2 separate regions of the Homo sapiens genome follow, and region 2 is linked to region 1. The links come from fine-mapping of genetic effects on gene expression. A gene starts in region 1. The other region holds a variant in brackets. All regions are shown on one strand. Distances are between the middles of the regions. Region 1 holds the start of CACNA1A (calcium voltage-gated channel subunit alpha1 A). Region 2 overlaps CACNA1A (calcium voltage-gated channel subunit alpha1 A).

Region 1 (5,365 bases):
GTTAATTTTTATTTTAAAAAAGGTTTTTGGAGAGACAGGGTCTTGCTATATTGCCCAGGCTTGTCTCAAACCCCTGGCCTCAAGCAATCCTCATGCTCTGCCTCCCAAAGTGCTGGGATTACAGGCGCAGACACCGTGCCCTGCCAGATGAATCTTAAAGACATAATGTTGAACCGAAGAAACAAGAAACTGTAGAATATATACTATATGATTATTCCATTTATATAAAAGCCCAAAAGAAGCAAAGTAAAATTGTATTGGTTAGGAACGCATAATAAGGTAGTCAAACTTTTTTTAAAAAAGCAAGATATGAATACCATAAAGTCAGGTAGCGATTATTGCTGGAATAAGGGGCTGTGTAAGCGTGTTGGCAAAGGGGGTTCTGCAGAGGTGGTGATGTTCCATTTCTAGCCCTAGACTTGATTTCATGAGTGTTCATTTCAGACCAATTTCTTAACTCCGTACCTTTATGTTTTATGCATTTTTCTTTGTGCTTATTGAATTTCACCACACAAAAAGCAGAATGGGAAGTAATCAAAGTGGTTCTGGAGAGACGTGAGTATCAAGCAAACTATACCACCCAGAACCCCTATCCAGCCAACTAGGACCTGGTTAATTATTTCCTCCTGGGAGTTCAGACTTGTCACCTCTGGGGTCTCCAAGGTAGAATAAACCTTTAATTCCAACTTGCAGGAGTCCTTGTGATTTGAAACGTTCACAGAAGTAACCCCAAACCACTCTCTCCACTTTCAAAAATGGTCTTTTGCTAAACAGAGCAAATTTGTTTAGAGACTGACGAATCGCACCTCTAGACACAAATCCCCTTCTCTTTTCTGTCTTTTAAGTTTTTTTCCTGCCTCCATCCTGCCTTCTCCTTGCAAGATGCTGGGGAGCGTCCGGCTGTCTGCAACCGAAATGGAACGGGGTGGAAAACAGGCTTTCCTCCCAGGGGAGGAGGAAGCACCCCAATTCCCCCCTCCCTGCCTCCCAACCATGCGACGCTCCCCTCTCTCCCCCACAAACTCCGCTGAGCCCGGTACCCCCGCGCCTCCACGAGCCTCCACGATTGGTCGCGGGCCCTCATGTGTCGACACTCTGGGTGGGTCCTTCTACTGTTAAACTCATCAATTGCTCCCCTTTTCCGTTTGCTGGCCAGTGGTTCAGACCTTTGCGCCCATTTTTTTTTCCTCTTTACCTTCTTCTACCCGCAACCCTCCACACCAGTCTTATTTTAGCAAAACCTAGAGAAGGAGGAGGTGGAGGGATTTGGAGGGTGGAGAGGCATTGCCGCATCCAGGGGCAGCTATTGAGTGGCTAAGCGGAGGGCGCATACCTCTCTCTCTCTCTCTTTTCCCCCTGTTGGGAATTTTCAGGATTTCACTGCTGCAATTTAACCCCAAGATGAGGCACCATTGAGCGAAACGCTGTGCGCACATACACACTCACACTTCCTCCGGGAGCAGAAGAGGCAGCCGTTGGTGATTCAGGAAGAAAAAAAATTTTTTTTTTTTTTTTTAAACCTGGACCCTGCGGTGTGAAGACTCCTTAGGAACCCTCTGGAGCGTCTTACTCCCCTTCCCTCCTCTTTCCCTTCCCTTTCATCTTCTTTGTTTTTATTTTATTTTATTTTTGGAGCTACAGATCTTTCAGCATTTTTAAGGTCTAGGAACTCCAGCAAAACAGAAGGGCACTTAATTTTTTTTTTTTTTTTTTTTGCCCTCCCCACCCAGACCTGGGTTTCGTCTTTCTTTATTTTTAAATATATATATATTTTTTTATTTTTTATTTTTTATTTTTTTTTAATGGGCCGAGCGCACTCCTTTTGCAAGATGCCAGCCTGACCCGGACCTCGGAGGAATTTGAAGCTTCCACTGCGTCCCGGGGGGGGCGTCCTTTGCAAACCGTTCGCGTCTTAAAGGGGGTGTGCGTTGGGTGGATTTTTTTTTTTTAACTGTCTCTTTTTTTTTTTTTCCGGAGTGGGTGGACTGGGGATTGCCTGGATTCCTTCCTCGGTTATTTTTTGCCTCGCTTCTCTCTCCCCTCCCCCCTCCTCCCCGGGCCCCCGCGCCCCGCCCCCGCACCCTCCTCCCGCCCCTCCTTCTCCGGGGTCAGCCAGGAAGATGTCCCGAGCTGCTATCCCCGGCTCGGCCCGGGCAGCCGCCTTCTGAGCCCCCGACCCGAGGCGCCGAGCCGCCGCCGCCCGATGGGCTGGGCCGTGGAGCGTCTCCGCAGTCGTAGCTCCAGCCGCCGCGCTCCCAGCCCCGGCAGCCTCAGCATCAGCGGCGGCGGCGGCGGCGGCGGCGTCTTCCGCATCGTTCGCCGCAGCGTAACCCGGAGCCCTTTGCTCTTTGCAGAATGGCCCGCTTCGGAGACGAGATGCCGGCCCGCTACGGGGGAGGAGGCTCCGGGGCAGCCGCCGGGGTGGTCGTGGGCAGCGGAGGCGGGCGAGGAGCCGGGGGCAGCCGGCAGGGCGGGCAGCCCGGGGCGCAAAGGATGTACAAGCAGTCAATGGCGCAGAGAGCGCGGACCATGGCACTCTACAACCCCATCCCCGTCCGACAGAACTGCCTCACGGTTAACCGGTCTCTCTTCCTCTTCAGCGAAGACAACGTGGTGAGAAAATACGCCAAAAAGATCACCGAATGGCCATATCCTTTTGCCCGAACCCCAGCAGCAGCTGCGCCTCCCCCTCCTCCCTCCGCCTCCCCTCTTCCAGGCTGGGAGAGAGACCCGGGGGTTGATGGGAGGTGGGGAGGAGGGGGGTCTTCCAGGGGCTGGGAGAGGGGGCACCGGGAGGAGTGTGAAAGAATCTCTCCACCCCGAGCTGGGTTGAGCTACCCTGGAGGCTTGGGAATGGGTTTGTGGGGGGCTGGGGGGTGGGCAGCGGAGAGTGGATCCTTCCCAAGGACCGACTCTAGAATGAGATCTGGGGCCTGGGGTCGTGCAGGAGCCTTGGTGGGGGCTTTCGAGCCAAGTCCGGAGGGTTTGGAGTTCTACGGAGTGAGCTTGGAGCGGGCTCGGGCCTGGGCGCTTCTGGCCAGGGCAGGGGAACTATGGGGGCCTTGGTTGGGTTTTCTTGGCCGTCGCTCACTGGAGTCCACGCAGGGGAAGCTGGACAGCCTCTCCACTACTGCTTTCCCCAAGGTGGGGGGCCGCCGCACTTTTAGGGCAGGGCGCTTGGGGGCTCCCAGGGCTAAGAGCAAGAGGGAGTCCATGTGGCCTTCACACTGAGAAGCCAGCACTGGCCGAAGTGAGTACCCCAGGGTGGGCCGCTGTTCCTATCTGGAGAGGATAGTGATGGGCTGGGGGGCGCTTATGTTTCCCTCATGTGTGCAGGTCCCATTGCCTTTAACCGCTGATTGGGGAACCTCATCATCTTTGGGGGTGTCGAGAAAGAGATCCCACTTGCTTTATCTGGGCCCCTGGCCTGGGAAGACCTGATCTGGACACTTTCAGTAAGAAAGACAGGGCAACAGCAAATGAGGTGGTGGGTCCATTTTAGAGCACCATGTCCAGCTTTTCCTACCCCGAGTAGCCGAGAGGGAACACCAGGAGAATCAGCACCCATGTGGACATCTTAGGTAGGTAAATGCCTTTTAAATTTTTTTTTTTTTAATCAAAGATCCAGAGGAAAAAGGTGAAGCCCACATTTTCTTCTGTGGAGATGCTATCAAAATGCAGATCTTCTGTGTTTCTTTAAATCCCTGCCTGCTTGAAATAAACCTTGAGGAGGGCTTAACATCTATCGAGATGTAGGCAGGCAAGGGTGGGTAATTAGTCGGGCTTTCTAGCAGTTATCTAAGCATGACCCAGATTCCAGGAGGGGGGACACACCCTGCTGCCCAGGCTGGCTGGCCACTGTGCCATGCCCAGATGTGCCGCTTCTCCGCACAGTTCCAACCAGCTGCCCTCTGTGTAAAAATGAACGGGCTGGATGGGTCCCTGGGGCTCAGCGATGAGTCCCCTATCCCTTTTGTATGTGGTTTTGCAGTTATAGACTAAACGGGGCTGGGCCCTGTGTGGTCTCCGGGGGTTGCTGTTTGAGGAGCATGGCGGGTGGTAGAGGGACTCACTTCAGGGGGGTTCAAAATCGAGCCTGGCGCTTGGATCCTGGGTGCTGGGATTGCAACAGAGGGCACTGAGGTTTTGGAGTGTGTGAGTGGTCTACTTTGAGGGTGGGGAAAATTAAGAAGTTCAGCAGAGGTGCTTTTGAGGGGAGCATACCTCTAACTACGATGCCATCTCCGTTGGTGCCCAAAGCAGGTGCCAGGTCTTTGCTTCCTAAGTTTCAGACTCTTAAAGAGGCTGGTTCTTAAGGTTAGCAATTCCTCACCATCCCAGGCCCATTGAAGTGCTCAGGGGTGGCTTGATTACTCTGCCTATCAACAGAGTGAGGAGTGGGAGTGCCTTGCAGGAGGACAGGGTATTCATGGGTGCACACCCAGTTAGCTCCAGGAGTGAGAGGGCTTTGCTCGGCTGACAGGTTTCCTCATTGAAAATGGCTTTAGATCGCCTTCTGGAGCCTGGATTTGGAGACTTCTAAGAGGAAAGGAAGGAGGTGGGGAGCCCTTCTGCTGTGTCCTTAGCTTACCTCTGTCCAGCCTGAATCCTGCAGATTGGAGGGCTGTTGGGGGAGAGGGGGATTGCAGTGGCCCCTCGGAAGGGGGAATCGTGGGAGAGGGAGGCAGGTGAATTGCGAGTGTTGCTTGCCACTTCATCTATTCTCTGGCCAGCTCGCCCGGGGCTTTCTTGCTCTTATGATGAGTTTGTGCATTATGCTCTCTGCAGACTGTTTTTGTTCTCTTTGACCCGAGGTAACAAACACATTATACAGCCCTACTCTGGAAGGGAAAACTCCCCACCTCACAATCTGTCATCGAGCTGGGTCATCCAGGACTGAGCTTTCTCTGTCCTGGATGGAGCGGAGGGCGGTGGCGGGGTGGGTGGGAGGGTTGGAGATGAGAGGGGATGGACAGAGACCTGGGGAGGGAGGTAGTGAATAAAAGAATTCAGGCCAGTGTAAAGAGAAAGACACGTGGAATGTCAGAGTCACGATACCAGGGCAGAACATTCTACTTTTTAATCTAAATATTTCTGCCATTAAAAAAAAATGTTTCAGCATATCCTGAGAGTGAAAAAAAAAGTGTGTAGGTACTTAAATAAAGTCTAATATATGTACAGGCAAGTACATATATTCAGATGCATAGATTTTTACAAAATGAACACACCCACGTATCCAGCACCCAGGTCCCGATCAGTGCCCTGGAAGTCCCCCTCCCCATACCGCCTCCTAGTTGCTCCCCCAACAAGGGTACCGCTCACCTGACTTCTAAGGTTCATTTTGCCTCTTTTAAACATGTAAATG
Region 2 (5,365 bases), 300 kb after region 1:
CCTCCAGTGCCTGGGTATCCCCCACCCCCACCCAGAGCTCCCTAGCTTGGGCCTCACCAGAAGGACTCAGACTTGTGGGGGCAGCGAGCACAGCCCCGTTAGCCGGGAGGACCCAAAGCTGCCATGCCGGGCACCTGGTCCTGAGCCCATAGGTCAGCCAGCCACAGTCGGAGGCTTCTCACCCTCCCAGGAGAGCAAGCTGGGGCAGGGATGAGTGCGGCAGTCCAGGGCTCCCAGGTTTGCACCCTGGATGTGGAGAGGGCTTCCCTCTGGCCAGCCTGAGCCTGCCCAACTGTGGCTGGGCCCCCAGGACTGGAGAGTGAGGATCAGATCTTTCTGGTCAGAACCCAGGATGGGCTCAAAAGGAGCAGTCCTGTCTCTGAGGGACAGAGGAATCCTCAGGCTCCACCCTCAGAGGCCTGGCCACACCCAGAGCCCTGATTGATCAGGGGGAGCCAAGGCCCCATGGCATCCCCTGGCCCCTGCCCCAGGATGGTCACACCGCAGTCACCGAAGGCCACCACCAGGCTGCCACAATGGGGCAGGAAGGACCGGGACCACTTGGTGCTAGCTGCTGACCCCAGCCCACCGGCCTGTCCCCTCCCCCAGACCATCTCAGACACCAGCCCCATGAAGCGTTCAGCCTCCGTGCTGGGCCCCAAGGCCCGACGCCTGGACGATTACTCGCTGGAGCGGGTCCCGCCCGAGGAGAACCAGCGGCACCACCAGCGGCGCCGCGACCGCAGCCACCGCGCCTCTGAGCGCTCCCTGGGCCGCTACACCGATGTGGACACAGGTGGGCAGCCCTGTGGTGCTCAGGGACAAGCAGAACAGAGGAGAGGAGAGGGGAGGAGAAGGCAGGGCGGAGGAGACACTAAGGAAGAAGAAAGGGAGAGGCCTCCATGGAGAGGGGACAGAGGGGGCCAGGCAGCAGCTGCAGGAACCTGGGTACTACCCCCTCCCCCCAACCCACTGACCTGCCTCGGTTCAGGGGATCTCTAGGGCCCCCACACCTTCCAGGTGGCCTCCTGTGTGTGCATCTGCCCCACCTCTCCCTCACGACCACCTGTGTGTCTGTCTGACCCTCACCCGGCCCAGGCTTGGGGACAGACCTGAGCATGACCACCCAATCCGGGGACCTGCCGTCGAAGGAGCGGGACCAGGAGCGGGGCCGGCCCAAGGATCGGAAGCATCGACAGCACCACCACCACCACCACCACCACCACCATCCCCCGCCCCCCGACAAGGACCGCTATGCCCAGGAACGGCCGGACCACGGCCGGGCACGGGCTCGGGACCAGCGCTGGTCCCGCTCGCCCAGCGAGGGCCGAGAGCACATGGCGCACCGGCAGGTGGGTGCGGCTGCAAGTGACCCCAGGCTGGGCTCGGCCGGGAGGCGGGGAGGAGAGAAGGGGATACCCCATCCAACAGCCACTCTAGGCAAAGGTCCCCGGATCCCGGCTGTGACCACCTCCCATCCTGCCCCCAAGCCACCGGGGTGCCCGGCGGCCGGAGCGGACACGGATCCCCACCACACCAGCTGCCTATGCTGTCCCCCCAGCCCCCTTGCCCACCCGCCGCCCCCTCCCCGCCGCCCGCAGCTGCTTGCTCCTCGGTTGTGGATCATATTTGAGTTCTGGGCCGTGCCGCCCGACCTTTCACTTTCCTTTAACCCGGCTTCTGTTTTTGTTTCAATTATGATTTCTGTCCTCTGGACGCCTGTGAGTAATTTTTGAAACTTCTGCTATTTTTAACCCCGAAACTTACAAAACTCCATTTCTCATTTCTCTTTTCACTTTGTTGTGTTGGTTTTCGACTCCTCCCCTCCCTGTCTCACTCCCCCTCCTCCCCTCCCTCCTCCCTGTGGCTGTTGCTTTTTTCCATTCAATGTCCTGTGTCCCCCCTCTCCTCCTCCTCCTCCTCCTCCCCCTCCCCCTCCTCCCTCTCCTCCCGGCCCCTCTCCCTTCGCTCCCCTCTCTTCCTCCCAATCCCGTGTCTCCTTTGATTTTGTTGTATCTTTTTTTTTGATTTCCTTTGTTTCAATTTTCGTGTAGGGCAGTAGTTCCGTAAGTGGAAGCCCAGCCCCCTCAACATCTGGTACCAGCACTCCGCGGCGGGGCCGCCGCCAGCTCCCCCAGACCCCCTCCACCCCCCGGCCACACGTGTCCTATTCCCCTGTGATCCGTAAGGCCGGCGGCTCGGGGCCCCCGCAGCAGCAGCAGCAGCAGCAGCAGCAGCAGCAGCAGCAGGCGGTGGCCAGGCCGGGCCGGGCGGCCACCAGCGGCCCTCGGAGGTACCCAGGCCCCACGGCCGAGCCTCTGGCCGGAGATCGGCCGCCCACGGGGGGCCACAGCAGCGGCCGCTCGCCCAGGATGGAGAGGCGGGTCCCAGGCCCGGCCCGGAGCGAGTCCCCCAGGGCCTGTCGACACGGCGGGGCCCGGTGGCCGGCATCTGGCCCGCACGTGTCCGAGGGGCCCCCGGGTCCCCGGCACCATGGCTACTACCGGGGCTCCGACTACGACGAGGCCGATGGCCCGGGCAGCGGGGGCGGCGAGGAGGCCATGGCCGGGGCCTACGACGCGCCACCCCCCGTACGACACGCGTCCTCGGGCGCCACCGGGCGCTCGCCCAGGACTCCCCGGGCCTCGGGCCCGGCCTGCGCCTCGCCTTCTCGGCACGGCCGGCGACTCCCCAACGGCTACTACCCGGCGCACGGACTGGCCAGGCCCCGCGGGCCGGGCTCCAGGAAGGGCCTGCACGAACCCTACAGCGAGAGTGACGATGATTGGTGCTAAGCCCGGGCGAGGTGGCGCCCGCCCGGCCCCCCACGCACCCCACGCACACACCCCACCCGAGGAGCCGCGCAGAGGCCGCGGGGGCCCAGCACAGAGGGCCCGGGAGAGGGCCAGCCGGGAGACCCCAGACTCTGGAGAGGCCAGGG[C/A]TGGGCCACAAGGGTGTCCCGCAGAGACCCTCGGCCAAAAGAGACCCTCCTGGGCAGCCACGGCGCCCCCCAACCAGCCCCGATCCCCCCACCCACGACAGGGGCTCTCGGGTGGGAGGCAGGGAGCAGACAAACCACACAGCCAAGGGATTTGAATTAACTCAGCCATTTTTGGAGAACTTTGGGGAACATGAAAAAAAAAAAAAAAAAAAAAAAAAAAAACATTTTTAAAAGAAAAAACGGGGAGAAAAAAATAGCTTCTATTGATGAGTTTTATCATCTCAATTGAATCTTTCCTTTCCCTGATGAAGACAGCTGGTGGCCGAGTGCGGCAAAGAAGCCAGAAGGAACCAGAATCCCAGTGCCCTACACCCACCACCAGACACACTCACACCCACACACGTTCTCAGACACACACAAGAGTGCTTGCCGGTTATACCAAACCCTACTATTACTGCCTGCAGAAATCAATTTAAAAAAATAATAATAACAATAAACAATTTTAAAAAGGACAAAAAAATTAATGATTGAGAAAAGAGGCATTTTTTTCTGACATTTGGTCCTGCTTGAAACAACAAAAGAAGAAGAAAAACCCACCATCACCACCGATTCCTTTGCTTCTTTTTTCCTTTTTTCCTACCTTGTTTGAAAACCGTGGGCTTGGGACTGTGAATTATTGCATGACATTCAAAAAGAAAAAAAAAATAAAAAAAAGTTGAATCAAAGGGCTTTTGGATAGGAGTGGTCTTTGTCCCTTGGCTAGGTGCTGCCTGGGTGGGTCTCTCTTGGGGAATCATACAAAGAGGCACTTCTTTGTTAGCTCCTAGAAGCACTGTTTGAAAGCGACAAGGAGGCCGGGCATCATGCACGCCTGTAATCCCAGCACTTTGGGAGGCTAAGGCAGATGGATCACTTGAGGTCAGGAGTTCGAGACCAGCCCGACCAACATGGCAAAACCTCATCTCTACTAAAAATACAAAAAAAATTAGCCATGCGTGGTTGCACAAACTGTAATCCCAGCTACTCCGGAGGCTGAGGCATGAGAATCACCTGAGCCTGAGAGGCGGAGGTTAGCAGTGAGCCAAGATCCCACCACTGCACTCCAGCCTGAGTGACGGAATGAGACTCTTGTCTCAAAATAAAAAAAAAAAAGGCAGGGCGCGGTGGCTCACGCCTATAATCCCAGCACTTTGGGAGGCCGAGGTGGGTGGATCACATGAGGTCAGGAGTTCACAACCAGCCTGGCCAACATAGTGAAACGCCGTCTTTACTACAAATACAAAAATTAGCCACGCGTGGTGGTGGGTGCCTGTAATCCCAGCTACTCGGGAAGCTGAGGCAGGAGAATTGCTTGAACCCAGGAGGCGGAGGTTGCAGTGAACCAAGATCGTGCCACTGCACTCCAACCTGGGTGACAGAGCAAGACTCCATCTTAGATAATTAATAATAATAATTTGGTCTCGTGGACACCAACCCCCGCCCCCACGAAGTGTTTCAGCCATCCCCAGAGTCCAATACCCCTTTGAGAGCTTCTGTTCTCACAACAGTACCTGACCCATAGCAAGCTACTATTGACTATCACCATTACTACTGTAGCATTAAGGCAAACATTTTGAACAGGTCTTGTTCCAGACAACAGGCCCTGCTTGAGCTTACCTTGGGTAAGAAATCTGCAGACTCCAGATAGCAAGACAGGTGTAAGTCCTTCTAAAATAATGGTAAGCCAAATGTGGTGGCACACACCTGTAGTCCCAGCTGTTCAGGAGGCTGAGGCAGGAGGATCACTTGAGCCCACGAGGTCAAGACCAGCTATGATCACACCTGTGAATAACCATTGCATTCCAGCCTGGGTGACGTAGAAAGATCCCATCTCTAAAAAAATTAAAAGTAAAAATAAATAAATAAAATAATGGCATCTAGGAAAAGATCAGTCCAACGAGAAGTCAAAGTTTTGAGGTCGAGTGCGGTGTCTGACTCTTGTAATCTCAACACTTTGGGAGAATCACTTGAGGCCAGTAGTTCAAGACCAGCCTGGGCAACATAGCAAGACGCTGTCTCTAAAAAAAAAAGTTTGTTTTTTTTAAGGCTGGGTACAGAGGCTCACGCCTGTAATCCCAGCACTTTGGGAGGCCAAGGTGAGCAGATCACCAAGTCAGGAGTTTGAGACCAGCCTGGCCAACATAGTGAAACCCTGTCTCTACTAAAAATAAAAAAATTAGCCAGGTGTGGTGGTGCATGCCTATATTCCCAGATACTTGGCAGGCTGAGGCAGGAAAATCGCTTGAACCTGGGAGGCAGAGGTTGCAGTGAGCTGAGATTGCGTCACTGCACTGCAGCCTGGGCGACAGAGTGAGACTACGTCTCAAAAAAAAAAAAAAAAAAAAATGGAATGGAAGGGAGGGAGGGAGGGGTTTAACTTTCTAA

The links.
Region 2: its variant is fine-mapped to the expression of CACNA1A in blood mononuclear cells (TOPMed, PIP above 0.99).

What each region holds. Positions count from the first base shown.
Region 1 is chr19:13,503,215-13,508,579 of GRCh38, reverse strand. It overlaps CACNA1A (calcium voltage-gated channel subunit alpha1 A), which reads left to right and starts at 2,101. Exons shown (of 47, transcript NM_001127222.2): 1 at 2,101-2,648. The coding sequence starts at 2,356. RefSeq lists an enhancer at 533-1,059.
Region 2 is chr19:13,204,743-13,210,107 of GRCh38, reverse strand. CACNA1A (calcium voltage-gated channel subunit alpha1 A) reads left to right here. Exons shown (of 47, transcript NM_001127222.2): 45 at 610-796; 46 at 1,099-1,352; 47 at 2,055-3,666. The coding sequence ends at 2,795. Among named protein-coding and RNA genes, the nearest start is that of IER2, 57 kb to the right of the region's middle. RefSeq lists enhancers at 392-1,292, 1,599-1,868 and silencers at 1,279-1,468, 1,549-1,598. The variant C/A (reference allele first, on the strand shown) is at 2,942.